Regions from separate parts of the Homo sapiens genome. Here region 1 is linked to region 2. Evidence: fine-mapped expression QTL. Tissue or cell type: subcutaneous fat. Region 2 holds a variant in brackets; the other region holds the start of a gene. All regions are shown on one strand. Distances are between the middles of the regions.

Region 1 (5,093 bases), 320 kb after region 2:
TCTTCATCAATGCGTTCAACAACAAGGTCAAGTAGTGGCGCTGATGAGACTGTAGTTTTTTTTTTTTTTTGAGACGGAGTCTTGCTCTGTCGCCCAGGCTGGAGTGCAGTGGTGCACATAAATGTGTGTTTGAGGCTGGGTGCAGTGGCTCAGCCTGTAATCCCAGCAATTTGGGAGGCCAAGTCAGGAAGATTGCCTAATCCCAAGAGTTCGAGACCAGCCTCTACACAAAATATAAAATTATCCCGGCATCGTAGTACGCACCGGTAATCCCAGTTACTTGGGAGGCTGAGGTAGGAGGATGGCTTGGAGCCCGAGAGGTCGAGGCTGCAATGAGCTATGATCGCTACACTCCAGCGACAGGGAGAGACCTTGTCTCAAAAAAAAAAAAAAAAAAAGTGTGTGTTTGGGTGAATGACTGATTGTCAGGCAGAAGCTGGTGACCCGTGGAGACATGGGGCCGCCGGAGGGGGGGAGGGATTGGTGATCCAGATACCCAAGGGGGCCCGGGGGCGGGGGGCGAAGGAGTGCGACTGGACCCGCACCTGGGCAACCGCGTCTCCAGCCTCCACGGCCCTGTCCCGCCCCCTTCCGGGCAGGCAGAGGCCCCGGGGCTGCCCTGCCGCCTGGGCCCGGCCCCCGCGGCAGCAGCCGAGCGGCCGCACCCCTTTGTGGGGCTGTCGTGCCGGGAGGGGCGCGGGCGAGGCGGGCCCGGGCGGCGCTGGGACTTGTAGGCCGGGAGCCCGGGCGCCTCCGGGCTGAAGCCCGTGGCCACGCCACCGACGCGGCTCCAGCCTGCCCAGGCAACGCGACGGCTGGGGACAGCCTTGGAAAAACTGAAGGGGAAACCGAGGCCTGGTGAAGGGATCCAGCTGGCGCAAAAGCACGCGGCCGCGCAGTGGCCGCCTCCCCCGGCCTCTAGGGGGCAAGTGAAGGTCACACTTAAATGAAAGTTTTCAAAGTCGCTTCGAAGGGCCTCCGGCTGGGCCAGAGCTTTCCCCCACCCCACCTTGTTCCATCGTGGATACACTCAACAAACATATCCCAGAGCCCTCTCCTTGCCAGGCCCTCCAGCTTGGGCAAAACATCCCAGGTCCCTGTTCTCGCAGCGCCCAAATAGCAGGGGAGGGGCTCCAGGCAGGCGAACACACAGGGCCGGGGAGGTGGGAAACTCCGCGAAGGAAGGAGAGGAAACCACGCGGGATGAAGGGCAACGGGGGCCGCAAGCGGGGGCAGGAGCGCCAGGAACGAGGAACGAAGGGGGAAGGGAGGAAAGGACGCCCAGGCTTCCGGAAGACTCGGGGGTCCCATCCCCACTGTGCAGAGGGCTAGAGCGGGAGCTGGGGGAGGGAGAGGTCAGAGGTCAAGGCTGCCGCGTGGAGCGTGGGCCGTGGAGTGGGGGAGGGGGCGGGCAGACTCCTCCCCGCCGGCAGCCAGGGCAGAGGGCTGGAGGAAACGCGGAGAACTCCTCGGTGCTGGAGGAAACGAGGGGAACTCCTCGCCGGCCTTGCGGTCCCCCACAGCCCACGGAGTGCCACTCCCAGTCCCCACAGACCCCACCTGCGTCGCCCTGTGCTGAGAGGAGGCCGCAGGGCTGGGGCCGGGAGTGACCCCAATTAGAGCTGCTGTTTCCCAGCTGCATAGGTCCCAACCGCGGGGGCTGGAGATGAGGCGGGCTTGAGGCCCCTAGTCCCGGCTTCAGAGGTGGAGGGTGTGACCCGCAGGTCCGGGATCCCGGGGTCTGTGCAGTCACACGGCCCTTCCCTTCGCTCAGGAAAGCCCGGGGCTGAGTTTCATGCTCAACCGCTGCCAACTTGAAATTCCTAGCTTTTGAATAAGGGGCCCCGCGTTTGCATTTTGCACTGGGCCCCGAAAATTCTGTGGCTGGCCCTGCCTGGTGTGAAGCTCACAGAGCCCCACTATGCGCCGCCTTTCTATGGCTGGGGGCCGGATGAGGGACCCGGGTCTGCTCTTACTCGCCCCAAGGGTCCCTGACACCAGCCCAGAACGGGGTGGAGCTGGAAAGAGCCCACACCTGCTTCCTCTGCCCACCTCATCTCCCGCGGGGCCTCTGAGACCGCCCGGGACCCGCTTCTATCGCGGCACCGTGGTGTAGCTCCCTCCGGGGTCGTATGCTGTATGTTTACTAGCCGAATTCTCAGTCCTGGACGCTCCGTGGGGCCAGGGAATATGATCTGTGCTCCGCTGCAGCCTCGCGCCCAGAGTAAATATCGGTCGGATGAACTAATCTTACATATAAAACAGAAATCATTTCCCTTTTTTAATATGGCACGTGGCTCTTCCCTAAGTCGCCCTGGGTTAAATACCGACTCAATTAACAAGATGCTAAAAACCGTTTACGTTTTTTTACGTTTTTTACGTTTAATTCACCAGACGGTGCGCTCCACGAGGGAAGGGGCCTGGCCTCCCTAGTTCAGGGTTGTGCTTAGTGCCTGCAACCGGCCGGGCCCGCGGGGGCAGCCAGGAGAGAAAGGCGCGCCCAGCGCCCCCAGGCCCGGATCCGCCCTCAGCCCGCGTGCGCTCCCCTCCCCCCTCCCCCCAATCGCCGCGCGCCCGGGTGCGGCTGGGCGGGGTTAGAACTACGCTTCCCGGCGGTCCCCGCGCGCCCGGGGCGGGGCGGGGCCGGCTGGGGGCGGGGCTGAGCTGGCGGGGGCGGCAGGCTACAAAGCCCGGGGGCGGTGCCGGGGCGCAGAGTCCCCGCAGCGCCGGTCGGGAGCGCAGCGCGGCGCACGTCGGCGCGCACGGCGGGACGGGCGCCGGAGTGGTCGGGCCTGGCGGCTGGACGGGCGCCCCTCGCTGCCCCGCGCGCTCCCCGCCGCCCCCCATGAGCGCAGCCCCGCGCGGCCCGGGTCCGTAGGCGGCGGGGCGCCCCCCATGCTGCTGCAGCCCGCGCCGTGCGCCCCGAGCGCGGGCTTCCCGCGGCCCCTGGCCGCCCCCGGCGCCATGCACGGCTCGCAGAAGGACACCACGTTCACCAAGATCTTCGTGGGCGGCCTGCCGTACCACACTACCGACGCCTCGCTCAGGAAGTACTTCGAGGGCTTCGGCGACATCGAGGAGGCCGTGGTCATCACCGACCGCCAGACGGGCAAGTCCCGCGGCTACGGCTTCGTAAGTGGCCCCCGCGCCCGGGCCCGCACCCCGCCGCACACCTTATCGCGGCCCGGGCGCCGAGTCCACTCCGGGGCACACGCCCAGACGGCCCGCTGCCGCCCCCGCCCCAGGCGCCTCCAGCCGGCGCCCGCACCTGCCGCCTCTCCCGGGCGCGCTCCTGCCGGTCCCGCCCCCACCACCCCAGGCCCCGGCCCCCACCCCCACCCCCACCCCCACCCCCACCCCCGGTTTAAAAGGAAGAGCCGCTGTGTTCAATTAGGACTCCTAAGTTGGTGGGGAGGTTTTGGAGCCAGAGGGCACTCGGGATTTCCTGGAGCAGCGGGGGGTGAGGAGCAATGGCTCCACCCCGGGGTGTTAGGAGCTCTTCGGCCTCCCCCATATTTTTAACAGCCCTCTCAGCCGCCCCAAATAAACATCAGCTTAAGTAAAAACGTCTTGAAGACACTTTCCTGCTTACCTTCCAAGCATAGCGTCGCAAACTCCTTCTCAGAGGAAAGTCTCGGCCCTCACTGGTGGGCAAGTCCAGGCGGCCCCCCAAGCTCCCTTCGGGGTTCATTTTTGCCCTATCCCCGCAGGGGATTATTTTTGTCCTTGAAGGCCACATTTCCCAGGCCTTGAACTTTGACGGGAGGAGCTGGAATCCAGGAGGCATCTTTGTGGGAGAGCCCCAGGTAGGGTTCAGAGGAGCTTTGGCTCAAGGACCCTGGGTCACAGGCACCCTCAGAGGAAGGGAAGAGAGGGGTGGCAGCATCCGGTGCCAGGGCGGAGCCGTCTGCCCCTTTCGCCCCTGGTTCCCCCCACGGCAGCCCCTGATGTGTCTCTGCTCCACCAGGTGACCATGGCCGACCGGGCGGCAGCTGAGAGGGCTTGCAAAGACCCGAACCCCATCATCGACGGCCGCAAGGCCAACGTGAACCTGGCATATCTGGGCGCCAAGCCGCGGAGCCTCCAGACGGGTGAGAGCTTGTGTTTTCCTGCCTGGCTCTTCTCGGTTTCTATATTGGGTGTCGGTATCTGTCGGGTGGAAAGAGGCCCCCCCTCCTCGCCCCAGCAGTGGCAGTCGGCTATCATGTGCCTGCAGAGCCGGCACAGGGCAGCCATCCCCCCCTCGAGGATCTAGACCCCTTCTCACAGCGTGTGGCCCAAAGAAGGGGGCGGGGGGCAGGGAGGGTACTGCACCCCAGTTGCCAGCTGTCCTCGCAGGAGGGAGGAAGTGGCCATGGGGCCTGGAGGTTGGGAGTGCCGACACCAGTGGCTGCTGACACCTGCGTCACTCACTGCCACACTTCAGCGGTGTGCCTTGGGGTTCACAAGGGGGAGGCCTGGGAGGGGAGAGGAAGCGGATGATCCCTTTTGACTAGAGGTGTGTGGCTTGTGGGATTCTGCCACCCTGTGTGCAGCCCTTGAGACGTGGCTCGTGCAGCAAGGCCAAGTCCCTGATTGTTCTCTCGTTTTAGGCTTTGCCATTGGGGTGCAGCAGCTGCACCCCACCTTGATCCAGCGGACTTACGGGTGAGTGGACATGGCTGGCTTGGGGTGGGTAGTCCGTGGAGATGAAGTGGAGAGGGCCTTGGGCTTCCTGGGTCTGGAAGGCTGGGGAAATGACAGTTTTCAGACATTTGATTGCGTTTAAGCCAAGGGAGTGAAGAGAAGGCAGATTGCACTTCTCCATCCCTGGCAGAGGCCATACCACCTAGGGGATGGTGAGCCTTGGAGCCTGCCTGCCTTGGTACACACCCCAGCTCCCTTCGCTAGGTGTGTGGCCTCAGTTTCCTCACCCGTAAAATGGGAGTGGTCACAGCACATCTGAGTTCTCTGAATGGAGGGCCTAGGGTGGGCCTGGTGCAGGTAACGCCCTCTTGAAGTGTTTGCTGATGACTCTTAGGGACTGGCAGGCTGAGTTCTTCCCCAGGCACTCCTCTCACCTGTTCTAGTGCTGGGGCAGGTGGTGGCAGTAG
Region 2 (5,093 bases):
TTGTTCTATACAGGCCCTTAAACAATTTGGACAAGGCCCACCCACATTGGGGAGGGCCATCTGCTTTGCTAAGTGAACCAATTCAAATGTTAATCCCATTTGGAAACCCTCTTACCAACACACCAAGAATCATGTTTAATCTGGGCATTAATTGTGGCCCAATCAAGTTGACACGTAAAATTACTGTGGTGGAAGGAAGTCTCCCTCATTGGCAGGATGAGGGGAGATGAGTGTGGGAGTGGCACACAAGTTCTTCACCTGTGGCAGCCTTTCTCATGTGACAGAGTAAAGATGAGGCATTTACCAACAACCCCTCCTTTGCTGGCCAAAGGGGCGTTAGTCCAGTTCAACCATCACTTTGTCTCCTGCCCTCTGGGGAGACTCACTCTCTATCAAACCCTTTGGGTTCTTGGACCTCCTTTCTGGGATGCCAGAAGGTCAAGAAAGCCTGGATTTGATGGAAGGACAGAGAAAGGCTTTAAAGAGACTGATTAAGACAATCTACAAAATAAAGAGCTGAGAGAGAAAAGAGTGGGCAGAAAAGGTAAAATTTTCCTGCAGGATGGGGGAGGGAAATGGCACTGGAGATGAGGAAAGAAGACACTTAGGGAACATAAGTGTCAGACAATGGGAGAATAAGGAAAAGGGGATCTGAAAAAAGTGGCAGGAAGTCAAGCATTGGGGAACTTTGAGTGATCTAGGATTCTTTCGTTGCAAGCAACAGCAATCAGTCCTGGCTGACTTTAGAAAAAGGGAATTCACTGGAAGCATCACAGAACTGAGGGCAGGCTGCAGATGTGGGACTGAGAATGAGTAGGAGCAAGGCAGGCTGCAGGCTATGAGGCAGGTAGCAGAAACAGTCTGATCAAGGTGCAGTTTCTGCGATGGAATGAAACACCAACAATGTCAGCCTCTTTGTCCCTTTGCTTGAGACTCAGGTTCCAAAGTGGGCTATCTGACTGACTTGGTGTGGTTCATGTGCCTACTTCTGTCTGTCTTGTGTGGAGGGGAGGGGTGCTGTAAGCCCAGTGCCCTATCTGTAAATGGAGGAGGGCAAGCCCTTGAATCAAAACTGTCATGGTTATGAAGGGGAAATGGGGCCAGGCAACCAAACATGATGAATTTCCATTACGCTCTTTATGTTCTTTTGAAAGTAGCAAATGGAGGTGCTTTCAAACATCGTTCTGGCTGCAGAACTGTGCATCTTGCACACATCACTTCTCCAAGGTCTTGGTCATTGACCCTCATGGGTCACAGCTTCCTTAAGGTTACTTTATTATTAGAAATACATAAACTGGAGAGTCTTGTGATAGACAGGTGAATAAAATGTCATAGGAATGCAGAAGAGGCAACCTGAGGAAGCCGGGGAAGGCTTCACTGAGGAGGTGACTTTTGGGCATGCTTATAGAAGTTTACAGGGCTAAGCAGCTGATAGGTAGTAGGTGGTAATAAATGCATCTCAATACTTATTTGAGATAAATCAATCTTAAGCAAAGCATGTAGGATTGAAGCCAATCCCCTTCTTCCTAGGAATCTGGGACAAGACTGTCTTGTAACTTGTAGCTTCACCTAACCCAGATACTTCTGGTTATAACTGCAGGCTTTTATGGACAATTTCACTTTTTCTTTTAAATAACTTTCATCAAGACCAATGACACTATTTGACATTAAGTCAAATCGTGCAGAGAAAAACTGGGGCAAAAGTCTTATTTTGTAATTTGTCAGAATGGGTTCTGAAAAGCTGTGCTTGCTCCCAAGGGTTTCCTGCAGGCGAAAAGGAAACTTCCCTAAGACAGAAGAGGGAATCCACCATTTGGCCCCGGATGGATGGTCTCAGCCACAGGACAGGAACAAGGACAGGAATCTGCTCACAGGTCCCCGCCCAGCTGCTCTCTGACCGGCCACAGTATTCAGGCCAAGACACTCAGCTGTGACTGCGAATGCTACTTGTCTGACCTAAGGATCTAAGGACTGTAGCTGCCTTGTTTGCATTTCTTACTCCAACGATAACTCAAAGAAAAGAAAATGAATCAC[C/T]GTGGAAAATGAGGGGAGGGTGCAAAAGTAGTGCCGCAGAGCCTCAGAATCCTCCCACCTGCCCTCCACCTGCATCTCCACCAGCCCATTCTCACCCTTCCCCACATCGCAGGAGAGGAACCGCCCAGTTTCCGGGAAGACAGGGTCACTTGGTTTAGCTGGAGTGGTCCCACTCTTCCTAAGTACCTGGTCTTCACAGTAGCTGCTGTGGCAGGGAAGGACGCAATCCCAGGACTAGACTCTTATCTTCTCCTTTTGCCCAGGCCCCACCAGCTTCCACACTGAACAACACGGGGCCTGTGGATCCATCCTCATCCCCTCCCTAAGCTACTGACCCACTCCCCTCCCCCTCCTGGCATTGATGGGCTGTCCTCAGGGAAGCCAGTGACCCTAGTCCAGGGCCTCAGACCAGGGTCAAGGGGCAGAATGTCTACACCAGGCCAGGGATCCCTGCAGACTGGTCTTCGGGAAGTGCACCCCCAGATGCAATCAGTTCACAGAGGAAAACCACATTTTGTTTAGTCTTTTCCTAGTCTAGAAGGCCTAGTATTTAATAAACCCTGGAGCCAGCCCTGAGGGGGACTGGCTTTTATGGGCTCCAGGCAGCTCTCTCAGCCTCTTCCCAGGTGGGGGGGCTTGGCCTGTTGGCAGCTGACTTGAGTTTTCTTCCCAGCCCCACCTCGCCCAATGCCCCCACCTTTTCCATGAGATGAAGAGAAACTTGGCCTCCAAGGGTCACTCTTCTCCCCAGGAATGTGTGGCCCAGCTTCTCCAGTTTAAAAGACTTTCCTCTGCTCCAGGGCTGACCCCAAACAGATGGGAACCTCTAGAGCTTGGTTGGCCAATGCCATGTTCAGCCCAGTCACAGCTGAGATCTTGTCACCTAGGTGAGTGCTTTACTGCTGGAGAAGTAGCAATCAAGAGAACAGTTCTTTTTAACATGGACATGAGAGATTTTAGGGACCAGTCCCCAGTGCTCAAATCATAGCAGGTCCCACCCAAGAACTTGGCTCATCCACAAACCAAGCTCCTGCCAAGCCCTGGCTTATGGAGATGGACCAGACATTCCTGGGGCATCATGGCAGGCGGCCACTGATGCTGTCTCAAATCCTGGGGTTCCATATTACGGAGAGAATCAGCTGCAAAAGGCAACAATTGTCTTTGAGTCACCCCTGCCCTTCCAAAAATCAGGCTTTCAAGAGTTGAAGGCGTGAAGCGTAATGCAGGGAATTTCTGACAGTGCAGAGGGTATCTGACAGGCTGGGATGTTCCAGCGATGACTGAACACGCAGATTGAATGGAACACTGATTACATTCTTGGTTAGCCGCCTATATAGCCCATACTGGGTCCTCATTACATGTGCCCTAACAACAAACATTATGTTTCATTAAAATATTACACACTTAGGAAAATACTTCTAAAAATGCAAAGAGGAGAATAAAAACTACCGCAAGTGCTATACTGAGACCCAGCGCTGTGGCAAGTTCCCCTGACCTGTCTGCAGGGATCATTACAAGCCGATACTGGCTGCCCAGCGGGACCTGATGAGACATCAGAGAGCTCACGTGACCTCCATTATCACTGTCACCGCCGTGCGTGCTGTTCACACAAACATCGGAGATGTAAGTGACACTTTACAACAATTCCTGAGCCTTCCATCATGTGGCTCAGAATGTCATGGCCCAGATGATGTCGGGGGGTATTAAAACAAATAAATGAACCATCGAACAAGTAAATAAATAAATACACAAAGGAAAGCGGGGAGAGAGAGGGAAGGAACCGGTTAGGGCACTCACACAGTGCAGAGGAGTCTGAAAAGGAATGCTGCCTGCTGGCGCCCTGGCTCTCTGTCTCTCTCCCTGTCTTTCTGTCTCTGTGTGTGTTTTTCCTCACTCTCTGTCTCTCTCGCCATCTAGCTGTCTCTCCTCTCTCGGCCCTTTCTCATCATAAACCCCCTTACATGTGATCTCCTTTAATCCTCACAACAGCCTGATGTAGTCACTGGCTTTCCTCCTATTTTACAGCTGAGAAAACTGGAGCTCTGAGAGATGGACTACCTTGCTCCAAGACACACAGGTGAATCCTAGTGGAGCTGGAGTCAGCCCCAGATAGCTCTATGCCCACCCTCCACCTCCCCCTCCAGCCTGTGTGTGCACGTATGTGCGGGTGTGTTGATGGGAATATACCCTAAGTCAGATTGCAACTTGCAATCTACAGCTCACGGACCAGAAACCTTAGCATTTCCTGGGAGCTCTGTAGAAATGCGGTGTCCCAGACCCCTCCCCAGACCTCCCAAGTCAGAAACTGCATTTTCACAGGATCCCTTGGGAACTCCTGGGCATGTGACAGGCTAAGAAACACCTCTCTACATCTCTCTACAGCCCTTCTCCCACTGCCAGGCAGGACTGAGTTACTGCTTTCCTGAGAGGAGGGAACTACATCACTCCCCAAAAGGAAACTGGAGACCACGCTAGGCGAGCACAGCTTTCCTGAATGCCAGCATACCAGGGCTGGAGGTGCAGGTTTGGTGCTGCCTCCGTCACCCTAAGCCCTCAACATCTCCATCCCCTGGTCTCTTGGTAAACAGCTAAGCCAAGATGGCCAGAGCTGGGAGGATGATTGGGCTGAGTCATGTCACTGTAGCCCACAGACAAGTCTGCAACCCATTAAAGACTTCTCTTCTCCATTAATTTCAGAGACAAAGAGACGTTTGAAGTTTAATGTCATTCTCTTGCTCAGCCTTCCTCAATGAGGCCCCCAGAAGGGTGAGTGAGGGGCTCTCGGAAGGAGTGGGGCTACTGCAGGGCTGGCTCCAGCCGCAGTGTGGGAGTACCCAGGTCTTTGCTTGGAACAAACACCTATTTGACAGACAGCAGTTGGGTCCTGGGTAGAACCATTGAGACCAGCTACCATTCCTGGTTCTGAAATTTAATAATGAAATAAATGTAATCACACATATTTAATTAAGCCATTTCTTAATAATCATTATCATAGCATGGCACACTCCCCACACGCCTGGCATAGCAAGGCACTATCATACGCATAGAAGCATAGACCT

Alleles and levels. Alleles are on the strand shown, and positions count from the first base shown. SD is a standard deviation of normalised expression in the study named.
As copies of C replace T in region 2, the expression in subcutaneous fat of the gene that starts at base 2,710 in region 1 goes up (large effect, 1.2 SD a copy in FUSION).

The links. PIP is the estimated chance that this variant, and not a neighbour inherited with it, causes the effect.
Region 1: RBM38 starts here. The variant in region 2 is fine-mapped to the expression of RBM38 in subcutaneous fat (FUSION, PIP 0.93).

The regions. Positions count from the first base shown.
Region 1 is chr20:57,388,687-57,393,779 of GRCh38, forward strand. RBM38 (RNA binding motif protein 38) reads left to right here and starts at 2,710. Exons shown (of 4, transcript NM_017495.6): 1 at 2,710-3,132; 2 at 3,968-4,091; 3 at 4,593-4,647. The coding sequence starts at 2,896. RBM38-AS1 (RBM38 antisense RNA 1) reads right to left here and starts at 4,370. Exons shown (of 2, transcript NR_149006.1): 1 at 3,593-4,370. RefSeq lists silencers at 403-782, 2,393-2,792, 3,143-3,332 and enhancers at 2,427-2,928, 2,929-3,428, 4,183-4,372.
Region 2 is chr20:57,067,782-57,072,874 of GRCh38, forward strand. No RefSeq gene overlaps it. Among named protein-coding and RNA genes, the nearest start is that of BMP7-AS1, 140 kb to the right of the region's middle. RefSeq lists an enhancer at 3,312-3,875. The variant C/T (reference allele first, on the strand shown) is at 2,035.